Homo sapiens: one gene and its partners. The protein of the gene in region 1 interacts with the protein of each later gene in a biochemical or structural test. Each region holds a gene or a part of one and is shown in the gene's direction. Other genes may lie near its edges.

Region 1 (8,601 bases):
ATATATGTACACTGAAAAGTACACAAATAAGAAGCTAGGTACAGTGGCCTGTGCTTGTAATCCCAGCTACTTGGGAGGATGAGGTGGGTGGTTTGCTTGAGCCCATGAGTTCAAAGCTACAGTGAGTTATAATTGCACAGCTGCACTCCAGCCTGGGCAACAGAGTGAGACCCTATATCTTGAAAAAATAAATAAATAATAAAATAAATAAAAAAATAAAAATAAGGCTGGGTGCAGTGGCTCACGCTTGTAATCCCAGCACTCTGTGAGGCCAAGGTGGGAGGACTGCTTGAGCCCAGGAGTTCAAGACTAGTCTCCACAACATAGGGAGACCTCATCTCTACCAACAATAAAATAAAAAATTATCTGGGTGTGGTGGCATATACCTGTAGTCCCAGCTACTCAGGAGGCTGAGGAGGCAGGATTGCTGGAGCTCAGGGAAAGGCTGCTGTGAGCCATGATTGTGCCACTGTACTCCAGCTTGGGTGACAGAGTGAGATCTTGTCTCAAAAATAGATAAATACAATAGATAGATAGATAGATAGTATACATAAGGGTGGGTGTGGTGTCTCATGCTTGAGACCAGGAGTTCGAGACCAGTGTGGGTAACACTATGAGACCCTGTCTGTACCAAAAAATTAAAAAATTTGGTGGACATGATGGCATGCCTGTAGTCCCAGCTACCTGGGAGGCTGAGGTGGGAGGATCACATCACTTGAGCCCAGGAGGTCGAGGCTGCAGTGAGCTGTGGTCATGCTACTGTACACCAGCCTGGGTAACAGAGTGAGACCACTGTCTCAAAAAAAAAAAAAAGTGTACGTATAAGAAAAGGTACTAGAAGGGAAGGTCCCAAAATATTGATGGTAGTTATTTTTGACTGGTGGCTTTATAGTGACTTACATTTTTTCTTGTGTTTCTAAATTTTCTATGAACAATTCAAGTACTACTAGTAAAATTAATCCCCATCCCACTGTATGAATGGTAATTCCCATCCCATTATAGCCTGTTTGATTTATCATTTGTGTTTACAAGTCTAAAATAACTGTGATTTTTTATCCTGCCATAGGCAGGATGGCAAGCACTACTCTTCATATACTTTTGGTACCAGCATCAGTTTTCATTCAACAGTACTGTTCAGAACACTTTGTTGGTGGGCCCAGCTTTTCAAAGCCCTCTTCAATCTCTTGCCACCCTCCACAACAGACACAGGGCTTCAGGCCAGCTGTGTCCCTAATCCGCCCACGTCCCAGATTTGGGTATGGTTTCCCCGCCCCTCCCCGCTTTCTTCCAGTCTCATCTCTACCAGGTCATCTGAGGCCTCATCTACACTCCCTGGCCTTCCCCACTGGTCACCACCTAATTTCACCATCTAATTTCACCCTCTTATGTGCAGCTGGTGTTTGCTTTTGCTTGGGCTCAGTTTGCTGTGGGGAAGGATTAAGACCCTTTCACACTGTCTTTTTTTTTCTTTTTCTCTTTTGCTTACTGCCCTTGACTGCTCCAGGGGCTAACAGGCAGCTAGCGGGGCCTGTATTCCCTAGGAAGGAACACAAGGGGTAGGGGGTGGGGAGGTAATGGTGGGCTCAGCTGGCAGGCGAGATAGAGATGGTCCTTAGGGACCCCATCCTGGGGCTTGGGGCATAGCACAGCTGCCACCCAGATGTGAGCATGGAGCAGAGCTGTTTCTGCCTTGGAAATTAGCCTCAGAGACGGTGCTTGGGACCTTTACCCTTGGTACCTGATGGCAGTCTCTGCAGGGTGAGCTGGGACTGGATACCTGGTTTGCAGAAGTCTGAGAGGGCAGATGGGCCCAGGAGTAAAGGTAGTTTTTCCACCTTCATATTAGGCATTACTTATACCCCCACATCTTCCTATGTGATAGGCCTGGCAACACTCAGAGATTGGGCACTTAGCCTAACAACTGAAGATGTGTGTCTAAAATAACAAAAATTCCTCATGTGTGGATAGTACTTTACAGTTTACAAAGCCCTTTCATCTCCAGGCTAAGAATTAAAAGCCAGCACTGGAATTCAGGTCTTTCAGATTCTAAAGCCTGAGTCAATGGATTATGGTGTGTTATTGCATGGCACTCTGAATTTCAGAGTAGTTCATACCTGCCTTGTGTCTAGCCTTTTGCTGTTAGCCTGAGACCTCTACTTATTTGCAGAGTAAGGATTATTAAATGCTACATATTCTTTGCATCCAATTAGATGTGCCATTGGCTAGCACTTCATGGCATAGAGAATACTGGGCTTTCATGAATCTGAATTTGCTGGATAACTTGGTGGTGGTGGAGATGGTAAACCACTGGTAATTGGTCTTCTATACTCATCCTTCAAGGTACCAGATTTTCCTGTCTGATTGGTGAAGGAAGCCTGAGGCACAGAGGTGGTAGGACTAGAACTCTGAATAAAAAGCACAGCTGAACCTGAGGACTTGAGGCAGGAGACCAGAGTATTTAAGAACAGGTGTGGCCAGGCATGGTGGCTCATGCCTGTAATCCCAGCACTTTGGGATGCTGAGGTGGGTGGATCACCTGAGGCTGGGGGTTCGAGACCAGCCTGACCAACATGGAGAAACCCCATCTCTATTAACAATACAAAATTAGCCAGGCGTGGTGCACATGCCTGTAATCCCAGCTACTCACGAGGCTGAGGCAGGAGAATCGCTTGAACCTGGGAGGCAGAGGTTGCAGTGAGGTGAGGCGAGATCGTGCCATTGCACTCCAGCCTGGGCAAAAAGAGCGAAACCCCTTCTCAAAAAAAAACAGGTGCTTCACCCCTCATACACAGAATGACCCTGGCCAAGTCACCTGACCTCACTAAGACTCAGTTTCCTTATATGTAAAATGAGGATGTTCATTAACTCATTCAACAAATATTTATTGAGCGTATACTGTTCTGGGAGATGAATACAGATACAGTCCCTGCCTTCCTGAGCTTGCAGTCTAGTGGGTCTAGATTACAGCAATTTATTTGAGAGGCACAATAAATAATAAATATATAGTAGAAAGTCAAGTAGGGTAAGTGCTATGAAGCAAATTAAAGCAGGATAAGGGTGTTTGAGTGGAGGGTGTTTTAGATGGTATAGTCAGGTGGTTTTCAAGGGGTTTTATGATGTTTCAAATGGACAATTTACATAACGTGCTCAGCTCAGTGCTAACAACAATTGCATGCTTAACAAATATATTATTATATTTGCCAGTTCCACACCTCTCAGTCCACATTTTAGTCTCTGAATAGTAATAATAATTAACACACATAGATCTTACTATGAGCTAGGCACTGCTCTAAGTCCTTTACATATTTTAACTCATTTAATTCTGTTTTCCTTTTTCTTTTTTTTGAGATGGAGTCTTGCTCTTGTCACCCAACCTGGAGTTCAATGGCATGATCTCGGCTCTCTGCAACCTCCACCTCCTGGGTTCAAGTGATTCTCCTGCCTCAACCTCCGAGAATAACTGAGATTACAGGTGCCTGCCACCAGGCCCAGCTAAGTTTTGTATTTTTAGTAGAGATGGGGTTTCACCATTTGGCCAGGCTGGTCTCGAACTCCTGACCTCAGGTGATCCGCCTGCCTCAGCCTCCCAAAGTTCTGGGATTACAGGCATGAGCCACCATGCCTGGCCTAATTCTTACAGTAACTCTGTGAGGTGGGAACTATTATTATCCTTCTCCCTCCCCCAACCCTCGTTTTTGTTTTTAGGGATGGAGTCTTGCTCTGTTGCCCAAGCTGGAGTGGAATGGCATGATCCTAGCTCACTGTGGCCTTGAACTCCTGTGCTTGAGCAATCCTCCCACCTCAGCCTCCCACTATAGGTGGGAGTCCCAGCTACTTGGACATATTATCCCCTTTTATGGTGTTGAAAAATGAGGCACAGCCGGGCGCGGTGGCTCAAGCCTGTAATCCCAGCACTTTGGGAGGCCGAGAAGGGCGGATCACGAGGTCAGGAGATCGAGACTAACACGGTGAAACCCCGTCTCTACTAAAAATACAAAAATTAGCTGGGCGTGGTGGTACACGCCTGTAGTCCCAGCTACTCGGGAGGCTGAGGCAGGAGAATCGCTTGAACCCGGGAGGCAGAGGTTGCAGTGAGCCGAGATTCCGGCACCGCACTCCAGCCTGGTGACAGAGCGAGACTCCGTCTCAAATAAATAAATAAATAAATAAAAGAAAAATGAAAATCAAACCATTAGAAAAGGCTGGAGACTAAGAATTGAACCCAGGCAATCTGTTTCCAGAGGCTGTGCTGGGATCGTGAAGGGGCTGTGATTAGATATCAGGAATGTCTAGCTGGCATCTACAGACTCTGCTGTCAGATGGCCTGGCTTCTTATCCTGTCAGTTTTAAGTCTCTCTGCTTCAGTTTCCTCATCTCTAAAATAGAACACCAGATCCTATCTTACCTTCTAGGTATCATGCTTAAAACAAAAGCCTTCTTTCTGCACTGTGGGTCCGAAGCCTGTTCACAGACCAGCCTAGCAGGGAGTAGGAAGGGTCAAGGGGTCTCTGACACTTCTGGAAGGAAATAAAGACACACTAAGCAATTGTCAGAGCAACCCTCAGTTCATCTGGAGACCAGACCTCGGAAGCTAGGTCTTTATAATGTTGAGATTGCCAGGGGGGAATTAGGAGATCCTTAAATGCAGAAGACAGGTTCAATCTTGGCGTGGTCTCAACACTTAGCTTCCATTTCAGGCCTTACACAGCTGGCACGAGAGGTAAAGTCTCATCGAATGTCAGGGTTGGAAGGGCGCCTAGAGACAGTCAAACTAGTGGATGGGGAAACTGAGGTACAGAGAAGCTGAGTGACTTACCCGAGGTCACTAAGCGTTTAGGGGGAGTCAGTTGGGGTAGCCTGGCTACAACCTCTACGCGAGTTACTTCCCTGAGGCTTCCAAATCTCGGCCTCTTACTTGGAAGGAGGAAAGGGCCTCACCGTCCAGGGCTCTAGCTGCCTCATGCCCCACGTGGGTGCTGCGGGATCCCGGAACACCCCGGCTCCAGACCGGGTTCGACTTGCGCGTGCGCACACGCGGCCAGCCCCTTGCCTTTTCCTCTCTCTTTTTCGTTCCCCTCTCCTCTCCTTACCGGCCTAGGGGAGGGGGGAAACAAGGGGAGCTAGAAGTTGGCCTCAGCCAATGGGCGGACGGGCCGCGGGCCCGGCCCCCTCCTTCCCTCCGGCGCGGCCCAATAGAAATTTACTACAATGTTGTGGCGAACTGAGGGGGAGGGGCGCGGGCCGGCGGGCGGGCTGCGGGCCGGGCTGGCCTCGCCTCGCAGAGGGAAGGCGGGAGGGCGCGCGCCAGGGTCGCTCGCTCGCTCCCTCCCTCCGCTGGTGCGTTTAGTCAGTCAGCCAGCAGCAGCCGGCGGGCCCGCGAGCCGCAGAGGGCCCGAGCCTCGGACGCCGGCGCCTCCTCCTGCCATTGTTCGTCGGGCTGCAGCAGTGGCGGGCGCAGGAGCCCGGCCCCGGAGCCACCGGTGAGGCGAGGCGGCGGCGGCGGCGCGGGAGCCGGGGCGGTGGGCGTGGAGCTGTCCCCGTGGGGACGGTCCTGGCGGCCGCGGCGGCGCTGCAGCCTCTTTGTCTGCAACCCCCGACAGGCCCCGGGCCGGGGCGCGGGCTCTCCCGCGGAGGAGCCTCGTGTGCACGCCGAGTCGCCAGCCGGGACGCGGCCCGAGGAGCGAGGGGCGGGCCAGAGCCGCTGAGGAAAGGGGAAGGGGTTGCGTCGCGGGAGTGTTGGAAAGTTAGGCTTGAGATGTATTTTTGACGGTCCCCTCGGGTGCGTCAATCACGGTGCGGTGTGCAGGAGCCTCGGGAGGAAACCAAATGCGGAGAATCGCAGGTTTCAGACGGTGAAGGTGTTGCGTGCAGCCGCGGAGCGATTTCTTCCTGGCGAGGGAGCTGGGCTGTCTGCAGAAGTCAGGCGGAATCTGAGGACTGCAGGGAGCCCTGGCAAGACTTCGCAGGCCTTCCCGCCACCGACGCCTGCATCATTGAAAAACATGTTCCCCCTTAGTCTTCTGGGTTCCCAGCGAGCAGAGGGTTAAATCTATTCTCTCAGCGTCGTGACCTCCTTTTTCAGTTCGCGCATCTGTCGGCTTGGAAATCTTCCTCCGTGCTCGCTGGGCTGCTGTACCTGTGGAGAGGCCGGGTCTGGGCTCGCCCTCCGAGATTGACCAGCAGGCCATTATTCCTGGGGAGGTTTTGCCAAAACAGGTCATGCTCCCCAAGAACAGGCATTCTCTTGAGAAAAAGTGATCTCACGTGAAACAGATTGCTGATGGACTGGTTTCTGGCCACATGATAGCGACTGTCATCCTGTTGTTTCTTTAACTGTACCCTGTACCCTGCCATAAATGACTAGTCTGTGGAGACTTGTTTTTTGGCATGTAGTTGTTCATTAGGAGATAGTTTTTTCTTTTTCCTTTTTTTTTTTCAGATGCTTTTTTTTTTTTTTTTTTTTGTAGTCTGGGTGATTTCACAGCTGCTATTTTCTTCCCTTCTGTTTTTAGGGAAAATTGCAAGAAATGGTTGTGTCTTGTGTCTTGGATATTATTATAGTGGATTTATACTCTCTTGAGGATGTACTGTAGTCAATGCTGTTGCTCATTGTTGTTTTCTGTATTCTCAGTCCTGGCAAAAATTTTAGTTGGTTTGATCCCTTTAATCAAAAGCAGGATATATAGCCCGTATATGTTTCTTCCCGTCCCAGTTTTGTTAATGTAGCACTAACCCCTACTTTTTATGGAAACTTGATGTACTCTTCATTTTCCTTTTCTGTAAATTGAAAGTGTAATCAGTTCTTCGCCAGTTGTAAAATTTTTGGTTTGGGGTGTTATTAATATAATCCATGTAGCGTACATGCTATCTGGCGTACAGTAAGCACTCAATAAATGGCAGATTCAAAAATAGATGTAATAACTGAACACCAGATTGCCTTAGAATCAAAGTAGTTAATTCAGTGTGCTTTCTATAAGAAGCTTATAATTAAGGTAAATATAGATATTATTCATACACCTGGGGAAACAAGTACAGTATATCTTTGGCACTATTAAAAGTGAACTATGTCGGGCACGGTGGCTCACGCCTGTAATCCCAGCACTTTGGGAGGCCAAGGCGGGTGGATCACTTGAGGTCAGGAGTTCGAGACTAGCCTGGCCAGCATGGTGAAACCCCATCTGTACTAAAAATGCAAAAAAGTAGCTGGGTGTGGTGGCATGTGCCTGTAATCCCACCTACTCAGTAGGTGGAGGCAGGAGAATCGCTTGAACCTAGGAGGCGGAGGTTGCAGTGAGCCGAGATTGCACCACTGCACTTCAACCTGGGCAACAGAGCAAAACTGTCTCAAAAAAAGGTGAACTCATTGTTGAACATAAGTTCAGAATGCCAACCTTCTGATTCCTCTGTCTTCTACCAACAAAACTATACATTTTTCCTTGTATGTTTGAATTCAGGCTTAGAAATAAATGTTTTTAATCTGTAGGTTTTACCAAAATTCTCCCAACAATTTTTTTTTTTTTTAAACAGGGTCTCATTCTGTCACCCAGGCTGGAGTGCAGTGGCATGATCACGGCTCACTGCAGCCTTAAACTCCTGGGCTCAAGTGATCCTCCTGCCTCAGCCTCCCTAGTAGCTGGGACTATAGGCGTGTGCCCCCATGCTTGGCTAATGTCTTTTTATTTTTTGTAGAGACAGTCTCACTATGTTGCCTAGGGTGGTCTTGAATTCCTGGACTCAAGAGATCCTCCTCCCTGGGCCTCCCAAAGTGCTGGGATTACAGATGTGAGCCACCTCACCCGGCCTCTCCCAACATTTATTAAGTGTTTTATACCAAATGTCTTGTAAGTTCTTATGCAATATGGCTACAATCTACCTTTCCACCTTTATTCTCCTTATTTTTTGTATTGTGCAACCAAATAGAACTACTCTGTAATAACCCTTGCTTTGCCATCTCTCTCTCTGTGTGTGTGTGTGTGTGTATGTGTGTGTGTGTATTTATTTATTTATTTTGAGATGGAGTCTTACTCTGTCACACAGGCTGGAGTGCAGTGGCATGATCTCAGCTCACTGCAACCTCCACCTCCTGGATTTAAGCAATTCTCCTGGCTCAGGCTCCCAAGTAGCTGGGATTACAGGCGCTTGCCATCATGCCCACCTAACTTTTGTATTTTTAGTAGAGTTGGGGTTTCACCATGTTGGTCAGTATGGTCTCGATTTCTTGACCTCGTGATCCACCCGCCTCGGCCTTCCAAAGTGCTGGGATTACAGGCATGAGCCACCGTGCCTGGCCCTGTATACATATGTTTTTAGAGACAGGGATCTTACCTTGTTGCCCAAGCTGGAGGGCAGTGGCATGATCCTGGCTCACTGCCGCCTTGAACTCCTGGGTTCAAGTGATTCTCCCACCTGAGCCTCCTGAGCAGCTGGGACTACAGACGTGCACCACCATGCCCAGCTTTTTTTTTTCGTTTTTAAAACACGGGGTCCTGCTATTGTTTCCCAGGCTGGTCTCAAACTGCTGGTCTCAAACTCCTGAGCTCAAATGATCGTCTCACCTCTGCTTCCAAAAGTGCTGGGATTACAGACATGAGTCACTGTGCC
Region 2 (6,044 bases), on another chromosome or scaffold:
GGGCGTTCCTATTCACTGAAATGGGAGATGCAGGAGGAAGAACAGAGAAGTGGGCTTAGATTGGGACGTGTTTGCTGTGAAGCAGCCATGGGCATCTGGTGGGGATGGGACATCTGGGTCTGGGCATTGCCACTATGAGGAGCTATTAGGAGAAGCCAGGGGAGTGGACTGAAAGGAAGGCCCAGGTCAAGTGCTTTCCTTGGTACCTCTGAAAAATCAGAGAGATGGGCTGCTTGACCTCATCTGCTTGTAGTAAGGATGGGAAATGGTCACTTTCAAAAAGGGCTGGACAAAATGCCTTCTAGCGTGAAGGACTGTACCTCAGCAGGTTTCCTTTCCATAGCAAGCTGCCTCGTACCCAGCCAGACGGCACCAGCGTCCCTGGAGAACCAGCCTCACCTATCTCCCAGCGCCTGCCCCCCAAGGTAGAATCCCTGGAGAGTCTCTACTTCACTCCCATCCCTGCTCGGAGTCAGGCCCCCCTGGAGAGCAGCCTGGACTCCCTGGGAGACGTCTTCCTGGACTCGGGTCGTAAGACCCGCTCCGCTCGTCGGCGCACCACGCAGATCATCAACATCACCATGACCAAGGTCAGGCTGCTGGGACAGGGGCTGCAGGGCAGCAATTCCCACTTCCTCTCAAGGGCATCTTTGCACTGGGCACTCAGTCAGGAGCAGGGAGGGATGAGCAGCCAGTCCATGTTACAGTGGGAAAGCTGAGAGGTCTTAAAAAGGGCAGTGACTTGGTTAAGGGCACTTCTGAAGAAAAAGGCAGGGCTAGGATTAGATCCCTGCCTCCTGACTAAGGCTAGCATTCTCTCCATGCGTAGCACTGAGCCTGTGCAGGGTGAAGGGAGAGAACGTGGCGAAGCTGCAGCCCATCCTGTGCCTCCCAGCATGCCCCATGCAGCTGAGAGGCATTGTTGCTGCCCAGTGGACTGCCTGACAGGCTACAGGCCCTTGCCTTTGTTTCCACATCTTGAAGGGGAGGTTTGGGAGGAGGGGAGAGGGGCCCCTGGTACAGCAGGGGGGACCTGTGTGTTTAGGGTGCCCCCTGCTACCAAGAAGTTGGGGAAGTTCTGGAACATGGTAAGGGCCCTGGAAGTTTGGACTGAGGGACAGCAGAGGCTGTGGGATGAGCCTGACTAGTCAGGAGACATGGGGCCTAGCCCCAGCTCTGATACTTCCTAGCAGTGTGATTTGGGGCTAGTCACTTTATTTCTTTGCACTTCATCTCCAAAATGGGCCGATAAACACTCTGCATTCCCTACCTCAAAGCATTATGAATAGACTCCATGAAAAAAATGCGTAGAAGAGTCTTGACAACATCAGCACCACCTTGTGAGGGCTTCTGTCGACAAGGCCCATTTCTTGCAGACACACACTTTAAGGACCTTTGCAAAGCAGTTGGGAATACATGGATGTGCCGTGGGATCTGAGGGCTTCGGAAGGGAATGGGAAGCTTCTGTACAGTGCCAGGGACTGTACACTGCAACAGATTCACTCTGTCTTCCAGAAGCTAGATGTGGAAGAGCCAGACAGCGCCAACTCATCGTTCTACAGCACGCGGTCTGCTCCTGCTTCCCAGGCTAGCCTGCGAGCCACCTCCTCTACTCAGTCTCTAGCTCGCCTGGGTTCTCCCGATTATGGCAACTCAGCCCTGCTCAGCTTGCCTGGCTACCGCCCCACCACTCGCAGTTCTGCTCGTCGTTCCCAGGCCGGGGTGTCCAGTGGGGCCCCTCCAGGTGAGGGGACTACAGGGACTTACTATACCCCAAAATTAGACTGGAAGGTGGATCGTGGCACAGGGAAAAGAGGAAAGCTTTTTAAAAATCCAAGGCTGGCCTCCTTGCTACCATCCAGCTCCACCTGCCCCTCCTTCCTGCAGCCTCAGGGCCTTCCTTACCTGCCCATCTAGGGGCTGGCTGTGTTGGGGGCACTCTTAGCCAGAGTTAAGGGCCCGGGATTCCCAGCACAATTGTGACACTTAGCTGTGGGGAGTCCTCCATGCCCTTCTCAGGCGGTGATGGGCTGCTGGAAAGGCCAGGCTGGCCAGACTCTTCTTGGAAGCTCTTGTCCTTTGGGCACCAGGGAGCCCCTGGGAATTAATTCCCGGTCCTTAATTTGTTCCTCTGGGTGTTGGCCACCAAGCCTTGGCAGGTGAGTAAGATGTAGTAGCAGTCTCTGCGTGTGACCTCTTCTGCCCTCTCCAGGGAGAAGGTGGTGAGCAAGCCCCTAGGATAGAAATAGTCTGTGTGCCGTACTCCTGCACCTGCGGCACTGAATCAGACTGGTGTGCTGGGCTTCAAGTTTATGGGGTAGGTGGCAGCAAAGGCTGGCAAGATGCCAGGGCCAGGAGGTGACCTGCCGACTCCAGGCTCATTTGTTCCCACTTCCCTGCCTTCCACAGGAAGGAACAGCTTCTACATGGGCACTTGCCAGGATGAGCCTGAGCAGCTGGATGACTGGAACCGCATTGCAGAGCTGCAGCAGCGCAATCGAGTGTGCCCCCCACATCTGAAGACCTGCTATCCCCTGGAGTCCAGGGTGAGGCCTGGGGTCACTGTGCAGGGCCTCCCATCCCTGCCCTCCCTTGGAATCCCACCTGCTGATCTAGCCTGAGCACTAGGGCCCTGGATCACTGACTGGCCGAGGAGGGGGAGGGTGACCTTCTCATGTTTCCAGGTGGAACAGACAGCTGGGAGGGCACTCAGGGGTGAAGTCCCTTGGGGTAGGCAGGAGCTCAGAGAGGAATCTGGTCAGGACTGCACTGCTTGTGGCCATTTGCCCAGGGCTTAGGTAGAAAGCAGAACAGGAAAGGAGGCCTTGTGTCTTTCTACCTCGTGAGGCAGGAAGGGTCCCGACCATAAGTGTCGGGCGAGTGTAGAGTTCTGGGACAGCCCCAGGTCCTCCTCCATCTCCATACAGCTATGGTCCACTGACCACCTCTTCCACCCATGCAGCCTTCCCTGAGCCTGGGCACCATCACAGATGAGGAGATGAAAACTGGAGACCCCCAAGAGACCCTGCGCCGAGCCAGCATGCAGCCAATCCAGATAGCCGAGGGCACTGGCATCACCACCCGGCAGCAGCGCAAACGGGTCTCCCTAGAGCCCCACCAGGGCCCTGGAACTCCTGAGGTAGGCGCGGTGGCTCCTGGGTGTTACTCCAGCACTGTGCTCAGGTCAGGCCCAGCTCACCAAGGACTAAAGGGAGCCTTCTCTCTCCTTCCCTCACTTCCCCCTCTCTTTCCCTCTCTCCAAGGGCCTGACCCATGGATGGGAACTGTTGGGAAGGGAAGGATCTGGCCCAGAGTTGGGAAGGGGAGCAGGTTGCACGTTGACTTACAAGGTCCACTCAGCTCTGAGAGGACAAGACACCTGGCTTCAGATGTGACTCCTCTTGCTACTGTCTGCCTAACTGTCCTCTTCTCCATAGTCTAAGAAGGCCACCAGCTGTTTCCCACGCCCCATGACTCCCCGAGACCGACATGAAGGGCGCAAACAGAGCACTACTGAGGCCCAGAAGAAAGCAGCTCCAGCTTCTACTAAACAGGTGAGGCTGGGGCTGAAGGGGGATGAAGCGACGCCCTGGCGGGACCTTGCTGATAGAGCGTGGCACAGCACGCTGGCCTGGGAAGGCAGCATTGGGTCTCCCGGTCTGACAGCCCTTCCTTGCAGGCTGACCGGCGCCAGTCGATGGCCTTCAGCATCCTCAACACACCCAAGAAGCTAGGGAACAGCCTTCTGCGGCGGGGAGCCTCAAAGAAGGCCCTGTCCAAGGCTTCCCCCAACACTCGCAGTGGAACCCGCCGTTCTCCGCGCATTGCCACCACCACAGCCAGCGCCGCCACTGCTGCCGCCATTGGTGCCACCCCTCGAGCCAAGGGCAAGGTAGAGGCACTGGCAGGATGGGGGAGGGAAACCCGATGAGAGCATGGGCACCCCCCAGACCGCCCCACCAAGTAGCATCCAAGATGGGGCCACGCCAGGCTGCTGGAGGGTGTGGGGTAAGAGGTGTCCCTGTCCTGGTAGCTCCTCTCCAAGGAGAGAAGACAGATGGCCCCATTCTCATGGAGAGCACCCAGAGCTGCTCAGGCACAGCCAGCAACTGATAACCCTGGGGCTCACAAGGGAGGGGATCCAGACAGGGGCGTGGGAGCAGGAAGAGATCTTCCCAGCCAGTGGGTGCAGGCTAGTATCGCAAGTTCTCATCTGGCCATGTGACTGTGTCTCTTTCAGGCAAAGCACTAAAGGGCCAGTACCAGTGAGTGGCCCCACCTGTGTCCCCGATGCTGACCTCACCTGGTCCTCCGCCTACTGTCCCTCTCAGTGCCTTCTCTCAGCTCCCAGGCCAACAGTAGCCAAACCCCTAGAGACAGTGATGCCTGCCCGCACCCTGGCCTGGTCCCTGGTCCTTCACTGGCGCCTTCTCGGAGCTGGCCCAGGGGGCCTGGAGCATGGACAGTGTGGGCGCTCTCCCTACCTTGCCTCCTTTTTTCTTAAAGCAAAGTCACTTCTCCATCACAACCAGATTTGAGGCTGGTTTTGATGGCTGGGTCCTTGGGCCTGGCCAGTCTTCCTCTTAGCCTCTGGATCTAGAAGGGACCATAAGAGGAGTAGGCCCTGGTTCCTGCTGTCCTGGTGGCTGGGCCCAGCAGGGGCCCTCACTCTTGAAGTCCAGGACTGGGTCTGACCTGGTGGGAGCACCTGCCAGAGGATGCTCTTTCCCAGGACGGATGGGCCCTATGTCTCAGGAGTGGGGTTGGGGGACAGCCTTCAGCAGCAGCTCACACCCTACCTTCCCCAGACTTGCACTGGGGTGGGATTTGGAGTGATGGGAAGGTTTTTAAGGGCCGGGGATGGATCTTTTCTAAATGTTATTACTTGTAAATAAAGTCTATTTTTCTCCCGTGAGTACTGAGTTGACTTGATCGGTGTGGGAAAAAGAGGAATATAGGCTCTTTGAAGCCTACCTTGTTCCTGCTGAGTCTTCCATACCACCTCCTTTCTCTCATCCCTTTTCCTGAGGCCACATCTTTCCAGGCTCTTCCCACTCTCCATTAGTGGCCTCTGCTCCCGGGGAGCATTATGGGCTGTTCTCTCTTTTCTTTTTCAAGCGCCTGTGTTCCCCTGAAGCAGGTGTTGTCTTCAGCTTCTGTGTGGCAGTCCCTCTCTCCCATACTCCCTCGTGGGACAGGCAAAGTTCCTGGGAGTGGAACTGAAGCCTAAATGAACAGATGTCAGGATGCCTCCATTGAATAATCCTTTATGAGGACCCATGTGGGGATGACACAGATACAGTGTGGATCCGAAGCAGCTGCTGCCCCCATCCCTTCCCTGGAACAGTCCATTAGAGTGAAGGGGGAAAAAAAAAACATACAGCACGAAGATAGGAAGTCTGCAGAATGCGGCCAGAGCTGAAAGAGGATGACTTCACTGAAGAGGCAGCATTTCAACCAGGCTTGAGCGTTCCCCTGCTGGGGCGGTGAGGAAGACGGGACTAAATGAGCAGAGACATGGGAGTGGGAGCTGTCTGGGAAAAGCAAGAATAGTTGGGAGGCTTCCAGAAAGTCATGTGGGAAATGCAGGTAGGGCCCTGGAGTGCAAGGCTAAGGCATCAACAGTCTTGGTGGTTTCTGAGCAGTAGAGCAGTGTGAGGAGTAGGACGTTAGGAAGGCTAATGGATAGGTGGAGAGAGAATGGCAGGAGGAGGAGGCATTATAAGGAGGCTGTGATTTTCTAGGTAGGTGGGAATGGAGTTTGAATTTGGTGAGAGAAGGGACCCAAAGCAGAGAAGGAGGGGGTGTGTTGCGCATCCACGCAGCCTACAGGCAGTCAGGGACTGTTCACTCCAGGTAGACAGGTAGGACCCAAGCTCTGGTCAAGGTTGTGCTGCTGCTGGCCCTGTGCTGAGTCTTAACCCTGCTGCTGTGGACTGCTGTGGCTGGAGGGCAGGGCTTCTTGGGTGGGGGGCAAGGTTGCCCTCAGCCCAGCCTAGGGAAGTGAAGGCAGACAAGGATCAGGCCAAGGAAAGGAGGGACAT
Region 3 (7,865 bases), on another chromosome or scaffold:
GTGAGTCCTGCGTCACCTCACCAGCCCCACCCACCCCTCCTCACCCCCACCTGGCCCCACGGGGGTAGGCCCAGCCCTGACCTGCAGAAGGCTAGCAACAGCAGATTATTGTTCTTGTTGGTAGCTTTGGGGTCTCCAAACCGTATTGGTAATCTTATAGCAGAAAGAGCAGGTTTTTGTGATTACAGAGCAAATTCTGGGAGGATCACAGAGGAGGGGAGGTAGTTGGGGATTCAGGGCCATTCAGCCTCCATCAGGCACAGGTGAATGCAGGATCTCGGGGGCCTGGCCTGGAGGTTGATGTGCTTCAGTAGCTGTGTATTCGGTGTATCCAGTGGTCTGCCTGAGAGGAGGGCAGTAACTCCTGATCTCTCTCCCACAACACTGCCTTGCCCCTCTTCCAGGGCTGAGCTTGGCATGTGTGGTGTCCTTGGGGTAAGTAGGCCCCATTTCTCTCGACATATGAGGATACTTGTGGGGCTCAAATTCCATTAGGAAGCCACTAACTTTGGACTCTGAGCCCTTGGAGCAAACATCCCTCTGCTTTTTGGCACTCGCTTAGCCCTGATTGGGAACTCCTGTGGCCCTGGTCAGGATCCTGGATGTGAGCAGATGCCAAGCACTCCCTCTTGGGTCAGGGCTGCAGTGGGAGCCTGAATCATGTAAGGAAGCTGGCTGTGTGGGGTCGCAGCGGCCAGGGGAATGGCCACAGACCCTTCTTGGACAGAGAGACCCTCCCTCTGCATGCTCTCTGGGTCAGCAAGGAGAGCCCAGGAACTTAGATCCCAGATAAAAGTGACATGTCCCAGAGTGCCCGGTTAGTATTGCAGCTCCTTGAGGAAGGAAGGTCATGGCAGACAGCACTCCCTTCCCCCAGCTTGGCAGCAGCTGACATCTGCTCACAGGACCATGTGAGCCCAGCAGCAGTGCAGAGGCCTAGATTATATTCAGAGAAGTTTCTTCAAAGCTGCCTTAGGCCCTTTGCTTCTGGTTGACATGATCTAGTCGCAGAGGCTCCAGCAGCCACACGCAGGGACCTGGGCTAGAAGATGATAGAAATCTAGCCTCAGTTAATGCCACAACCTTCAGCTAAAGGTGGAAGGCTGGTAGGACATGGTATCCTTGGGACCTCAGTTTCCTTAATTGTAAAATGAGCCAACTCTAGTCTTTCCAACACTAGGATTTTTGATTCTATGCAGCCTCTGTAAGTGTTATTGTTCAAAGGTTTTTAACTCCCCTGGCTGGCAGTTGCTATTTCGGGAAAAGGGCAAGACAAATACGGATGGGGTTCCCCTAACCAAGAAGGGAAAGGCAGCCTCTTGGGACAGCGTGACTGCCCTAATGAAGACTATTTTAGGCTCACCTGGCTAAACCATAAATCCAATTTTATCATTTCCTCACCTAAAACCCTCTGTTGCAATGGTTGTCAAACTCCAATATGCAACTCCTTTAACAAGCCTTCTGGGTGAGTTTACACGACTTAACCAGGTGCCACCCCCAGATCCCTACTGCATCAAGCTCTGGGGGTAGAGCCTAATAATTTGCATTTCCAACAAGATCCTAGGTGATGCCGATGCTGCTGGTTCAGGACTGCACTTTGGGGACCACTGTTCCCAGGGCTATTCATTGCAATTAGAACAAATTCCACAAGGTAGTACATGAAGGGCTCTCACCCCTGGCTGTACACTCACATCACCTAGGGAACTTTTAGACAGATGAATGCCCAGGTCTCACCTCAGATCAATTAGGATCTCTGGGGGTAGGCCCCTAGCTGCATCTGTTTCCCTGGATTATTCAGTGGGCAATCAGGATTAAGAACCACTCTTGCCTGACCTGACCCCTGCCTGCTTCTGAAACTCAGCTCTTCTCACTTTGCCCTCCTTCACAGTATTCCAGCTCTTCTGGCCCTCTCTGTGGCCTCAGACGGTCCCAGCTCATGTCCACCCCAGAGCCTTTGCACTTGTTCAGTCCTCTTGCCAGGAACACTCAACCCCAGATCTCTGTGTGGTTGCCTCCCTCCCGTCATTCATGTCATGGTCAAGTTTCGTATCCTCAGAGAGGCCCTCCCTGACTCCCTTAGCTAAAGTGGCTCCTGCCACATCGCAGCAGACATTCTCCATCCCACTGTTGTCTTTTCCTCGTAGCCCCCAGGGAGGAAGGCCCAGCCTTTGTTTATTCATTTATTTGCATGTTTACCTTCTATTTCCTCTACCAGGTTGTAAGCTTTAAAGTGCAGGGATTTTCATTTCTCTTGTTTCTATATTGTCCCTATTACCTAGACCAGGGTCTGGTACATAGAAAAGAACTTAATACATAGTTGTTGAATGAATGAAGACAGGGAAGAAGACTTTAAATGTAAGTACCCTGCACAGATACTAGAAAGTAATTGGTTAAAAAGGAAGAAATACCCTTTTAGGCCGGGCGCAGTGGTTCACACCCGTAATCCCAGCACTTTGGGAGGCCGAAGCGGGTGGATCGCCTGAGCCCAGGAGTTTGAGACCAGCCTGGGCAACATGGCAAAAGCCCATCTCTACAAAAAATACAAAAAATTAGCCAGATGTGGTGGTACATACCTGTAGTCCAAGCTACTTGGGAGGCTGAGGTGGGAGAATCATCTGAGCCTGGGAAGTTGAGGCTCAGTGAGCTGATTGTGCCACTGCACTCCAGCCTGGGTGACTAGAGTGAGACCCTATCTTAAAAAAAAGAAATTAATTTTTAGGGCACCATGCAGAGGTCATAAGATCTCAGAGTAAACAAGCAAATGGAGCTGAAAACATGGGTTGTTTGAATGCAACTGCAGAGACTATAGGAAATTGTAAAAATTGAGGTTCTGAGCATAAAGTGTAAAAATGCATTTCAGCAGGTTATGTGACTTGTAGATGTGGTTATTTTGTGCATATTTTAAATGCTGGCCATCACTGTGCTGCTCATGTGGGCTGCTCTTGCCCCTGCCTTCCAATTTTAAAGGCCACAGGAAAATTATATAGAGAGGGAAGAAACAGGTAGTGAGGTATATGGAGCTCAGGAGCCCACACACCAGCAGCAGCTAGCCCAGTCTTTAGGACCCAGAAAACAAGTAACACGTGTCAGGGCCTCCTGAAGAAAAAGGTGACCAGCCACCAGGGTGGGAGGAAGAGGCTGTGTTCATGACCAAAGGCTCAAACAGGGACTAATGCAAAGCTCACAAAAATATGAGAAATAGAAGTAGGGAAAAACAAAAGCTGAGACTGTAAGCAAGGGGCTGCTGTCACCTGTTCTTTTAGATGGAAGGCAAAAACTGTGCCCACCTGAGCTGCTGGGTTGGGCGTATCCTGCGTAAATGATCCTGCATAAATCCTGCAAAAGCTGTTAGAATAAGGTATCAAAAAGGCCATTTTTCTTTTCCTTCCAACACATACACCTAAGGAATCAAGCTCTGCTGAAGCACAGGAAGATAGGGGACAGTCAAGAGCACAGGCTGCCAGGTCAGGTGGAGCTGTGTTCAACTCCGGCTCTGCCACTGAGTGACTTCACTGCTGCATGCTGGTCTCCACATGCTTATCTCAGCAGGCCACCTGAGGGTGCAAGAATGGTGCACATGAGGTGCTTAGCAGCCCGCAAGAGGTCATTGGTAGTTCTTATCGCCATCACCTGCTCTGCTCTAGCAACGGGGGTGAGAGGGACCAAGGGTGTCAGAGCTGTGCTGCCACTGCTGAAGCAGCCTCCCCCGCATGGTGGGAAGGCCCTGCCCCGAGCCCTTCCTTCTGGCCGCAGACACTGCAGAATGAGATTCTGGGCCATACGCCGCGGGTTGAGGATGTGCTGCAGAGAGGGCAGCAGCTGGTGGAGGCGGCGGAGATCGACTGCCAGGACCTTGAGGAGCGCCTGGGGCACCTGCAGAGCTCCTGGGACAGGCTGCGGGAGGCAGCGGCCGGGAGGCTGCAGCGACTGAGGGACGCCAACGAGGCACAGCAGTACTACCTGGATGCAGACGAGGCTGAGGCCTGGATTGGCGAGCAGGAGCTCTACGTCATCTCCGATGAGATCCCCAAGGTCTGTTCGGGCAGGGGATACCAGCCAGGGTGCCCAGGCAGAGAGGAAGAGTTGAGGTTGGCTGTCGGTAGGGAGCCTTGTGAGTCCAACTGTGTGAGGAGTGAGGCCAGGGGAGGGGCACAAGGAACCCACAGACTCCCTGCCCTCCCTTGGTGCCTCCTTGAACACACCCCTGCAGGGCACACACTGAAGCCAGGTGCCTCCTGTTTACCCACTTAGGTTTGCTCTAACCCAAGGGTTCTCTACTTTTCTTTACCCTGGATTCTGTACGCTATGAAAGAGATGGGGTGAGAGGTGACAGGTGGGGGTCTCTCAAAGCTGGAATGATATAGGATGTTTTCATGGGGACAGGGGTTAGAGCACAAAAGGAAGGGTATATGTCGGATACGAATCAGGGGAGTCCAGAGAGGAAGGTAGGGCACGGGCATTGCTGGGAAATCAGAAGGGCAGGAAGGAAGCATGTGTGGCTCTCCTGCGGGTGTCCCACAAGCCTACTCCCCTCCTCCCTCGGGCACCTCCAGGAGTGGGGGCACAACTTGCCAAGGGAGGGATCATGGCCAGACTGAGCTCTGGCGCTGACCGTCTGCTGCCTCCTAGGATGAAGAGGGCGCCATTGTGATGCTGAAGCGACATTTGCGGCAGCAGCGTGCGGTGGAGGACTACGGCCGGAACATCAAGCAGCTGGCCAGCCGGGCCCAGGGCCTGCTGTCTGCAGGCCACCCTGAGGGGTGCGTGCGCCCCCTGTGGTGACTCGGTCAGGAGATGGGGATTGAGCCAGGGGCCCACCAGCCAACGTCCCTTCAGATTTAAAAGGAAAATGGAAAGAGTTTTCCCATCAAATAGGGCTGGAGAAAATTGCTGCGGGACTGGTGATGGATCCAATTTCATTTTATGCCTTGGTTTTGTGTGAATCACTTCCAGCTGGGCCATCGAGGCCCTGGTTTTCGAAATGATCAGAGAAGGGGTTAGCAAAACTACCCTCTTGGTGACCTGAGAGCACCAATTTTCCGAAGGGTTACAATATGCTAAGGGACACTGAAGACTACTTTAGCTTTTATTTTTATGGTCCAGAAGGTCTCCAGGACTTCACAGTCCAGACAGAACCATGATGTAGGAGTGCAGGTGGAAACCTGTGCCCACATGGGCTGCGAGGTTTTGTGGATCCTGCATAAATGGAAGCCCACTGGGCCACAGACCACACACTGCCCCCAGCCATGGCCCTGTCCTCAGCTGCCATTAGGGTGCCCACCACTGTGGGTCCTCAGCAGCCACCCCAGAGGTTTCCCTGGGAGCCACATTGTCTGGGCCCCTAGTATGTCTTTTCCCTCCCTGGAGGGCTGAGCAGAGCTGTTGCTGCGGGAGCCCCACTCAGGTAGTGCTGCTCCCCCAGCCTCTCTGGAAGAACAATGGAGGCGTTCCCCATTTGCACTTGTCCCTGTAAGCTTGCCAGAGTGAGGGGCACCATGGGAAGCACCCCTCCAGGACAGAATTCCAGGACACAGTGTGTCATCCCCTGAGGCTAGGGTGTGGCCCCTTCTCTCCCCAGCTCTTCCCCGGCAAAGCCCCTGTCATTTCTCCAGAGCTTCACTCCCTACCTATCCCTGCCAGGGGGCTGTGGTTGGCATATGTTGGCTCCCTGGAGCCACGGCTCTGGGTTCGTGGCTGCCGTCTCTGAGGGCCTTTTTGGTTTTGAATTCCAGGGAACAGATCATCAGACTTCAGGGGCAAGTGGACAAGCACTACGCAGGGCTGAAGGACGTGGCGGAAGAGCGCAAGCGCAAGCTGGAGAACATGTACCACCTGTTCCAGCTCAAGCGGGAGACCGACGACCTGGAGCAGTGGATTTCAGAAAAGGAGCTAGTGGCCTCTTCCCCGGAAATGGGGCAAGACTTTGACCACGTGACTGTGAGTAGCCACAACTCCTGCTGTTTTTGTCTTTCTCTAATGCGGTAGACGCAGCCAGCCGTCACTCAAGACACACAGAGTGCTGCATAGGACGTAACCTCCCCAGTGTGAGGCGGGACCAGCCGATGCAGGCCTGCCCTGGGGAAGGTGTGACAGCGCAGCTCCCGGAGCTGCAGTTGCTGCCTGGGAAAGTCTTTGGCTAAGCTGGTGACACCTGTAACCCCTGTGCCCCCCATAACCACATTTCTGTCTGCCCCATGCCTAGCTTCTGCGGGACAAGTTCCGGGACTTTGCCCGGGAGACCGGGGCGATTGGGCAGGAGCGGGTGGACAATGTGAATGCCTTCATCGAGCGACTCATCGACGCGGGCCACAGCGAGGCGGCCACCATCGCCGAGTGGAAGGACGGGCTGAACGAGATGTGGGCAGACCTCCTGGAGCTCATTGACACGCGCATGCAGCTGCTGGCCGCCTCCTATGACCTGCACCGCTACTTCTACACGGGTGCCGAGATCCTGGGCCTCATCGACGAGAAGCACCGCGAGCTGCCCGAGGACGTGGGGCTGGACGCCAGCACGGCCGAGTCCTTCCACCGGGTGCACACAGCCTTCGAGCGGGAGCTCCACCTGCTGGGTGTCCAGGTACCTTCAGCCCCCTGCCGCCCACCTGCTACCAATTTCCAGGAGCCCTGGGTGTCAGTCCCCACCTGGCTGTCAGCAGGAAAACCTCTAGGATAAGTGCCAGGAGGTTTTGCCTCCTTAGACAGCCAGGAGCTCAGGGCTGGGAGCAGTGGCTTTCAGATGTTCCTTAGCTTCAGAAGTCATTCTTTAAACTGAATCCTCACAAAAGGCCAATGCATACAATACTATACGGTTGCAGTTTCTCCAGTTGTGCAGTACTATTAGTGGACACACGCACAGCACTTTTCTAGCACCAGGTGCTCTTCTGAGCAATGTATGTAGCCGCTGGACCCTCATGGCAGTCCTCTGAGGCAGCTACTAATATTCCCTGCACTTTGTAGATGAGAAAAGGGAGAGGTAGAAGACCCATAAGTTTCCCAGGAACATGTAGGTACGAAGTGGAGCCAGGGCTCAGACCCTGGCAGTCTAGCTATAGACCCCACATACTTAGCCACCGGGCACTTCAGCCTTTCCACATGGGAGCTGGAGAGCCCCCAAGTTCTACTGTTCAGACCCCTGCCCCATCACTGGAGTGCCCTCCGCAGATCCGTAGGGTGCCCCAGAGCTTGGTGTGATAGAAAGGGCAAATGCAAGGGGGCCCCTGTTGCTGAGGGCTCCCCCAGCTTCCAGTGCAGCAGGGAGAGGTAGGCTGGCTGCGCAATCCCAGGCCAGCCCTGCAGGGCTTGGGGACAGAACACCAGGGTTGGCTGGGCCCCTGGTTCATCCAAAAGGGGACCTCTTAGGGAAGTGTCCTCCAGCTGGAGTGGAGGGCCTGGTGTGTGGCTGTTGCATTTGGGGATGCCAGGGCCCCTGAGATAGGTGTAGCCCCACTGAGGTCTTAGGAGTGAGGTTTCACTGTCCCCAGGGCCAGCCTCAATCAGGGGATCTGGTGCAACCACTTCCTTGGAGAGGCAGCACACAGAATGGTTAAGAACGGGGACTCAGGAGCACGGTGCAAATCCCAGCTGTACCCCTTTACTAGTGTGAAGGACCCTGGACCAGTTACTTAGCTTCCTTGTGCCTCGTTTTCCCCATCTCAGAAACAGCAATAGTAATAGTACCTCCTTCCTGGGTTTGTTGGAAAGACGAAGAGAGTTCATCAGTAGAAAGTGTTTAGAACAGTGCCTGATATGTAGTTCCTCTCATTAGTGTATTGTTGAGGAGATCAAAGGGCAGGATTTCCTCTCACTCCCAAACCTTCACAAAGTTCAAGAGGTATCTTGGGTAGGCAGAGGTGTTAAAGCAAGGA
Region 4 (7,865 bases), on another chromosome or scaffold:
TCTTCTCTTGACGTTTCTCTTCAGAAAAAGTTAGAGACTTGGGAACGAGAAAAGGAAAAGGAAAATTTGGAATTAGATGAATTTTTGTTTTTAGAACAAGCTGCTGATGAAATATCATTTTCTAGTAATTCCTCATTTGTACTGAAAATCTTAGAAAGGGATCAACAGATCTGCAAAGGTCACCGGATGTCTTCCACCCCTGTCAAAGCTGTGCCACAGAAGACAAATCCGGCAGATCCCATTAGTCATTGTAACCGCAGTGAGGATTTGGACCACACTGCACGTGAGAAGGAGAGTGAGTGTGAAGTCGCACCCAAACAACTTCATTCATTGTCCTCAGCTGATGAATTGAGGGAACAGCCTTGTAAAATCAGGAAAGCCGTCCAAAAGAGCACTTCTGAAAATCAGACTGAATGGAATGCACGTGACGATGAAGGTGTTCCAAATAGTGACAGTAGCACTGACTCTGAGGAACAGCTTGATGTTACCATAAAACCATCGACTGAGGATAGAGAGAGGGGCATCAGCAGCAGAGAGGATAGCCCACAAGTCTGTGATGATAAGGGGCCTTTTAAGGACACCAGGACCCAAGAAGATAAAAGGAGAGATGTTGATCTGGATTTGTCTGATAAAGATTACAGTAGCGATGAGTCTATCATGGAAAGCATAAAACATAAAGTGTCTGAGCCCTCGAGATCCTCATCCCTAAGTCTGAGTAAAATGGACTTTGATGATGAAAGAACTTGGACTGACCTTGAAGAGAATTTGTGTAACCATGATGTTGTTCTTGGGAATGAATCCACTTATGGGACGCCGCAGACATGCTACCCTAATAATGAAATAGGTATCCTGGACAAAACAATAAAAAGGAAGATTGCACCAGTCAAGAGGGGAGAAGACTTGAGCAAGTCCAGGAGGAGCAGAAGTCCTCCTACATCGGAGCTGATGATGAAATTCTTTCCTTCTTTGAAACCAAAACCAAAGTCAGATTCACACTTGGGAAATGAACTCAAGTTAAACATAAGTCAAGACCAACCACCTGGTGAGTCAGAGCATTATAAAATATGTATCAGAATGTTAGAAATTTAACATTAATCAGTATGCTGTCAGAATGCTTAAAATCCTAACTTTCCTTATTGCTCAATAGAATTAAGTCAAATTAATGGGTGATTTGTAAAAATTTGATTTATTTTATGGGTCTATATGAGGCTTTAAAATTAATTAGTTTTTAATAAAGTGAGATAACATCAAAGCTTCTACGTTTCCTTTCTTCCCCAGACCTGGTTCAAGTACCCCTTCCTAGAGGTACCAGTATTACCATTTCGTTTGTGTATTCTAAAGAGTCCGTGCATATAAAAGCATATGTGTCAGTTTGTATATAATTACCTTTCTATACAAATGAAAAGACTCTTTTTGTATACTGTCCTGCACCTTGCTTATGATAAATTTTGAAGATTGTTCTAACGCATGTACACACCTACCTCATTCCATTTAACGGATGTGTAGTATTTCTGTTGATGTAACGGACTTTTTAAACTCACCCTGAAAGATTCCTTTCCATTATATTATATTATAAACTAGCAGAGCATAGGTGCTTTAAAATAGAAATTAAAATAGAAATTATAACGTTAATTTTCAAAAATTCTGATTTTAAAAGTAATTTTTTTGTACAAAGTTTGGAAGCTTAAAAAGCATAGAAGCAAAAATATTTACAACTTAACTACCCAAAAGTAACTGCTATGCCATTTTGGGATATTTCATTCCAGTCATTTTTTCTATGTAGTTTTAATATGACAGAGTTGTATAACTTAGCTCATTTCTTTAGCCTTGTGGATCACATTTAGTTTCTAAAAAAGTACTAATTGATAAAAATGCTTGAAGGACAGAAGCACTGGCTATTTTACATTTTAAATAGCAAATTTGATAAAGGGAAAACAATTTGCATTTATTTGATTAATAGTAGGGGTAAACTTTGATTTTGGTGTTGATTAGCTCTTCAGATCTCTTGTGGATTACTTATTCTTAAGCTATTTATATATATTCGTCTTTGAAAAATTGATTTGAATGATTTCTTTTTATGTATCATGTTGATTCCTTGTCAGGTCGATACTCTTTTGAGGTAGATTAATTCTTCCATAAATTCCCACTGATTTCCTCAGGAAAGTTAGGTTTAATTTTTTTTCCTTTTCATGTTTGAAGCATTGTTTCTAATGCATTTTAATAGCACAGATGTTTGCCATATTCTTGGCTCTTAGTGTTACTAGCTAGCTAGTGTTTTTGCTGCAGTAATGCCTTTTTTGAAGTTCAGTATTTATGGCCTATTTCATAGGTGACAATGCTCGATCCCAGGTTTTGAGAGAGAAAATTATTGAATTGGAAACAGAAATAGAAAAGTTTAAAGCTGAGAACGCATCTTTAGCTAAACTTCGCATTGAACGAGAAAGTGCCTTGGAAAAACTCAGGTACGTTTGGGTCTGTAAGTTGGGAAAAAATATGCAGTGACTCAGTTATACCTTTAAGACCATCTATAAACAGTCTGAAACAATTTAAATCAGTCAAACAAATATAATTGAAAAGGAGGTGAAATCTGTATCATATAAGTTTTTTTTACTGAATAAAATGACCCAGGGTAGTCAATGATGTGTACAAAGGGGAATTTTTCTTAGTGGAGAGATCATAAATTAAAATTTGAAAAACAGTTTGGAGCTATGGTACCTTCAAGTGGTACTTTGGCTAGTTAGTGTATTGGTTTCTCTGGGCTGCTGTAACAAAGTACCAGCAACTGGGTGGCTTTAAACAATAGAAATGTATTTTCTTGTGATTCTGGAGGCTGTAAGTCCAAAGTCCGGGCATCAGCAAGGCGGGCCATGCTGGCTCCTCCAGCTTCTGGTGGTTTCAGGCACACGTTGGTATTTCTTGGATTGCAGCTACATCACTCCAGTCTCTGCCTCTGTGGTCACATGGCCATCTTCCCTCTGTGTGTGTCTTCACATGGCATTCTCCTCTGTGTGTGTTTGTCTTGGTGCCTCTTTTAAGGATAGGGTCATATTGGTTTAAGGGCCCACCCTACTCCAGTATAACGTCATCTTAACTGGCATCTTAATTGTATCTGCAAAGGCACTATTCACAGGGATTGGGACTTCAACATATTGTTTTAGAGGACACAACTCCACCTACAGCAGTCGATAGTATGACATATCGTCTCCTACCCTAGGTCATGATCTTACCTGACTTTATTGGTTAGCAAAACTTGAACTGAACTTACATGAGGCTATTTATATATGTTATATTTATTATTTCTCTCTATATAAATTTTACGTAGACATATTTTTTAATTGTACTTGTGAATAGTACTAAGTTCTGTTGCAGGAACATACTAGTACTTTTTATTCCAGGTGTTGCTCTGGGTCTTGTTGGGGATATTATATGTCACATACACACCGTATTTCTTTGTTTTTTGGTATTTGTTATTTTAATGTTTGAGGAGAAATTCATACAACTGTAGTTCCCATGGCTGCCTGCTGCGGGATGGGATCTAGGGGATGGTAGCTGCTATGCAAATGCTGAAATTCACCCAAATTTCCCAGCCTCTTTGTTCTTTAGCACTCCCCAGGATGCTGCAAGTCTTTCGTTAGTGTCCAGAGTTCCGAAGTGGTTGATTCTGACAGGTGCTGCTAGTTCAATAGCTGCTTTGGTGGAGGGACTGATTGTTGGAGCTTCCTACTCCACCATCTTCCTTAACATCTCTTCCGTATTTCTTTTCTAAAACCTGAAAAATATGAATTCTAAAGCACATCTGGCCCCTAAGTTCCAGATAAAGGTTTATAGACAGCTATTAATCCACTTAAAAAGGAAATTCGGTTACTATACTATAATCTGCAGTATGCTTAAAAATCAAATTCTGAAAATTTGTTACTTTTTAATGGAAACATCTTTGTTTTTCAGCTGATACATACTGTAAATGTATGCTTATCATAGTAGTTATGGGTAAAATGTGGAACTTATTCCAATCCGTTCTCCACCCAAGATCACTTTTAAAACGTCTCTGCTTCATTATTTCAAAACGGACATCTTTTTCTTTTAAAGAACATTTAAGTCATAAGATAATGGCTGGGTTTTTGTTTTTTTGTTGTTGTTTTTTGTTTTTTTTTAGCATTTTCCCTATTTCGGTTTTGCTTTGTTCTAAGCAAAATTCAGTCCTCGAATTTAGACATTGTGTTATCCTTCCCAATTGACAGATGAGGAAACTGATGCACTGAGAAGCAAGTTTTTTAAGTTTACCTCCTTAGTCAGTGACAGAGAGCCTCAGTGCCAGCCTAGGCAGTGTGGTTCAGTAGAGCCCTGGGCTCTACTGTATGGGCTCTTTAATCTGCTTTTTATTTTATTTTTATTTTTTTGAGACAGGGTCTGGCTTTATCACCCAGACTGGAGTACAATGGTACAATCTTGGCTCACTGCAACCTCTGCCTCCTGGGCTCAAACCATCCTCCACCTCAGCCTCCTGCGTAGCGGGGACTACAGGCACGCACCACCACGCCCAGCTAATTTTTGTATTTTTGGTAGATACGGGGTTTTGCCATGTTCCCCAGGCTGGTCTTGAACTCCTGGGCTCAAGTGATCCCCCTGCCTTGGCCTCCCAAAGTTCTGGGCTTACAGGCATGAGCTACGATGTCCAGCCTTGCTTTTCATTTCAACAACATAATAGACATCTTACCTATTAGCACGCCCTAGTCTTCTGTATCCTTGAAATGACTGTATTATATGAATGCCACTGTGACTAATCAGTTAATGGAAATTTAGCTTGTTTAGAATTTTCCACATTAGAAATTATTCTGCAGGGAATATCGTCATATGTATAAGACACTTTTTATTTAAAAATCTACTTCCTTGTGATAAATTTTAAGAATGTCCATTGCCCCAGTCAGCATCTGAGGCTTCTTCTCACCCCTTTCCCCATCACTGGAGTTGAGCGTTAGCAGTCTTTCAAATCTTGCCAACCTGATAATTATGCCATCTTTCACCTGCTAAAGTTTGTATTTATTTAATTATTGATAAAGTTGAGCATGCTTTTATATTTAGTGGTCATTTGTGTTTATTTTGTAACTTTCTTTGTGATCTTTGCTCATTTATCAGGATATTTAACTTTCTCAAATGTGCCACAAGTATTCCTCCCCCAGTGTTTGCTTTGACTATATGATTGTGTGCACACGGTCGACATTTTGAATAGTCAGTAAGAATGTCTTTTACCTTTTCTGTCTGCTCTCCCTCCAGTGAGGCAGGGAGAGACTTGTCCGGTCTCAAGGCTTTAAATGCTGTTACGCCCCAGATCCAGTTCTCTCGCCCACATCTCCTATCCCACTGCCTCGTTGTTCTCTCTACCTGGAGAGCTGATGAGTGTTTAAATTGATCATTTAGAAAAAGTGAGCTCCTGACGTTCCCTCCTGAACTTACTCTTCTCTTCTTCTTCCCTGTCTCAGCACATGAGTCTGCTCTTCCATTTGCCCAGTGGAAAATCTTGGAGTCATGCTTGAGTCTTCTCTTGCTCTCTCAGTCCATTTCTAACCCGACTGCTTCACTGCCTCAGAGCTGCCACTCTCCACCAGGACCCCATTGGCTTTCTCTGGTTATTAAATTCACTTCCTAGCAGGTCTCTCTGCTGCCCGCGTCTGTGCTCTTCACACACATCCAGAGCCAGCCTGCGTTTGGACGGTTCATCTGATCAAGGCCTCCTTCCTCTTTTTTTTTGAGATGGAGTTTCACTCTTGTTGCCCAGGCTGGTGTGCAATGGTGCGATCTCGGCTCACTGCAACCTCTACCTCCCAGGTGATTCTCTTGCCTCAGCCTCCCGAGTAGCTGGGATTACAGGCATTCGCCACCATGCCTGGCTAATTTTGTATTTTCAGTAAAGACGGGATTTCTCCATGTTGGTCAGGCTGGTCTCAAACTCCTGACCTCAGGTCCAGCTCCTGGCCTGATCTGCCCGCCTCGGCCTCCCAAAGTGCTGGAATTACAGGAGTGAGCCACCGTGCCTGGCCTGTCTCCTCCTTTTTTGACACCTTCTCCTGCTACCCATCCTTTGCTCACTGTGTTTTAGTCACACTGGCCTCCTGGCTGTTCTTTGAACACCTCAGGCACATTCTTGCCTCAGGGCCTTGGCACTTGCTGCTCCTTCTGCCTGTACTGCTGTGTGTGGACACCCTTGTGACTGGCTCTCTCATTTTCTTCAGGTTTCCTTCATGTTATCTCAGCAAGATAAGCCCTCACATACAACACAGTTTCACCCTCCCACTCTGATATTTTCTAAACTTCTTCCTTGCTTTATTTCTCTTTAATGCTTCTAATATTCCATGTACTTATTTATCTTTATTATCGTCTGTCTTCCAATAGAATGTAAGAAGCTGCATGGGAATACATTTTTTTTTTTTTGAGACAGAGTCTGTCTGTGTCGCCCAGGCTGAAATACAGTGGTGCGATCACAGCTCATTATAACCTTGAATTCCTGGGCTCAAGCCTGCCTCAGCCTCCCAGTGTTGGGATTATAGACTTGAGCCACTGTGCCCAGCTAGAATGTTTGTTTTTTTCACTGTGGTTTCCCCACTACTTCGTCGAATGCCTGATTCATCGTAGGCACCCAATGAATGCTTATTGGATGAATGCTTTAGTGAGTGGATTGGCTGTTATTTCAGGCCTATGGATTGAAGATGAATTCACTAGGACTAGCAGTTACTAGCCTGTCAGCAGGTTCTGCACATCACTGCACTGAGATGGTCTCCTTAGGTGATAACATAGTTTGGTCATTTTAGGAAAGAAATTGCAGACTTCGAACAACAGAAAGCAAAAGAATTAGCTCGAATAGAAGAGTTTAAAAAGGAGGAGATGAGGAAGCTACAAAAGGAACGTAAAGTTTTTGAAAAGTATACTACAGCTGCAAGAACTTTTCCAGATAAAAAGGAACGTGAAGAAATACAGGTATGCTAGTTCTTTATGTTATATTCATGTAAGTTAGTAAAGGTGACAATCTTGTAAGCATCTCAGAGTTATTTCTTATGTCAAAGCAAAACTGTGTATCAATCCATTATTCATTCATTCAGCAAATAATCTGTCTGAGACAGTGTATCAGGAATATCTTTGGTAGTCTGACTTTTAAAGAGTAGAAGATTTCAGTTCTTTTCTTACTAGTAAAGTCTTCCTAGAAAAGACCACGATAATGTCATGGATGAATTAACAAGCCTGGAGTTGGAAATTCACCAGCATTATGTTGTGTTAATCTTTTTGACCTACCACCCACCAAATATTGTTAGTTCTGTTCATTTATCATAATTTATGGCTGTAAATAACCAGGTGTTTAATTCTAAAACTTATAAACTGATAGGCCAGATTATCAGTCTTGTTCATTTCATAGTTAGAAGTGGACATGCTAAAACTATAAACCTTCTAGAAAAAAATAGGTGAATTTATTTACGACATTGGCATATACGAAGATTACTAAGAGAAGACACAACTAACTATAAAAGAAAAAATGGATATATTGGACTTCATCAAAGTTGAGACTTATCAAAAGAGAAATTTAAAATGGCTATCCATTGCTTCTAGTATAAAATGCACCTTCCACTGTCTGTATTTTAATTACTAGCATTTTTGAGTTCCATCCTTTGCTTTCTTCCTGTCTCATGCAGCCATCCTTGAGCAATCTCACCTGCACACGTACAGCTTGAGTTATTGAATAGCATGGTGTTCAGGGTCTTTAATTCTCCTTCTTTATTTTTGTGGGAAGAAACGTACCATTATGTTTTGGTTAATGCTTAGTTTATTAAATCTAATATGTTAGATGTTGACAATATTAAAACTTTTATTTCAAAAGGTAA

Evidence for each region.
Region 2: the proteins of EPB41 (region 1) and NUMA1 form a complex in vitro, tested with the Homo sapiens proteins (one study listed by BioGRID).
Region 3: the proteins of EPB41 (region 1) and SPTB form a complex in vitro, tested with the Homo sapiens proteins (one study listed by BioGRID).
Region 4: the proteins of EPB41 (region 1) and CPAP form a complex in vitro, tested with the Homo sapiens proteins (one study listed by BioGRID).

Annotation. Positions count from the first base shown.
Region 1 is NC_000001.11:28,909,289-28,917,889, forward strand, and holds the start of EPB41 (protein 4.1), read left to right. Parts: upstream 1-5,280; 5' UTR 5,281-5,480; intron 5,481-8,601. UniProt on the Homo sapiens protein: Protein 4.1 is a major structural element of the erythrocyte membrane skeleton. It plays a key role in regulating membrane physical properties of mechanical stability and deformability by stabilizing spectrin-actin interaction. Recruits DLG1 to membranes.
Region 2 is NC_000011.10:72,001,735-72,007,778, reverse strand, and holds the end of NUMA1 (nuclear mitotic apparatus protein 1), read left to right. Parts: exon of another isoform or gene 1-343; coding exon 344-590; exon of another isoform or gene 591-1,515; coding exon 1,516-1,744; exon of another isoform or gene 1,745-2,234; intron 2,235-2,409; coding exon 2,410-2,546; intron 2,547-2,962; coding exon 2,963-3,139; intron 3,140-3,437; coding exon 3,438-3,554; intron 3,555-3,679; coding exon 3,680-3,892; intron 3,893-4,240; coding exon 4,241-4,252; 3' UTR 4,253-4,915; downstream 4,916-6,044. UniProt on the Homo sapiens protein: Microtubule (MT)-binding protein that plays a role in the formation and maintenance of the spindle poles and the alignement and the segregation of chromosomes during mitotic cell division.
Region 3 is NC_000014.9:64,771,292-64,779,156, reverse strand, and holds part of SPTB (spectrin beta chain, erythrocytic), read left to right. Parts: intron 1-3,405; coding exon of another isoform or gene 3,406-3,507; exon of another isoform or gene 3,508-3,738; intron 3,739-3,753; coding exon 3,754-4,032; intron 4,033-4,629; coding exon 4,630-4,760; intron 4,761-5,732; coding exon 5,733-5,937; intron 5,938-6,202; coding exon 6,203-6,577; intron 6,578-7,865.
Region 4 is NC_000013.11:24,898,523-24,906,387, reverse strand, and holds part of CPAP (centrosomal P4.1-associated protein), read left to right. Parts: coding exon 1-1,042; intron 1,043-2,329; coding exon 2,330-2,462; intron 2,463-6,803; coding exon 6,804-6,969; intron 6,970-7,865. UniProt on the Homo sapiens protein: Plays an important role in cell division and centrosome function by participating in centriole duplication. Inhibits microtubule nucleation from the centrosome. Involved in the regulation of slow processive growth of centriolar microtubules.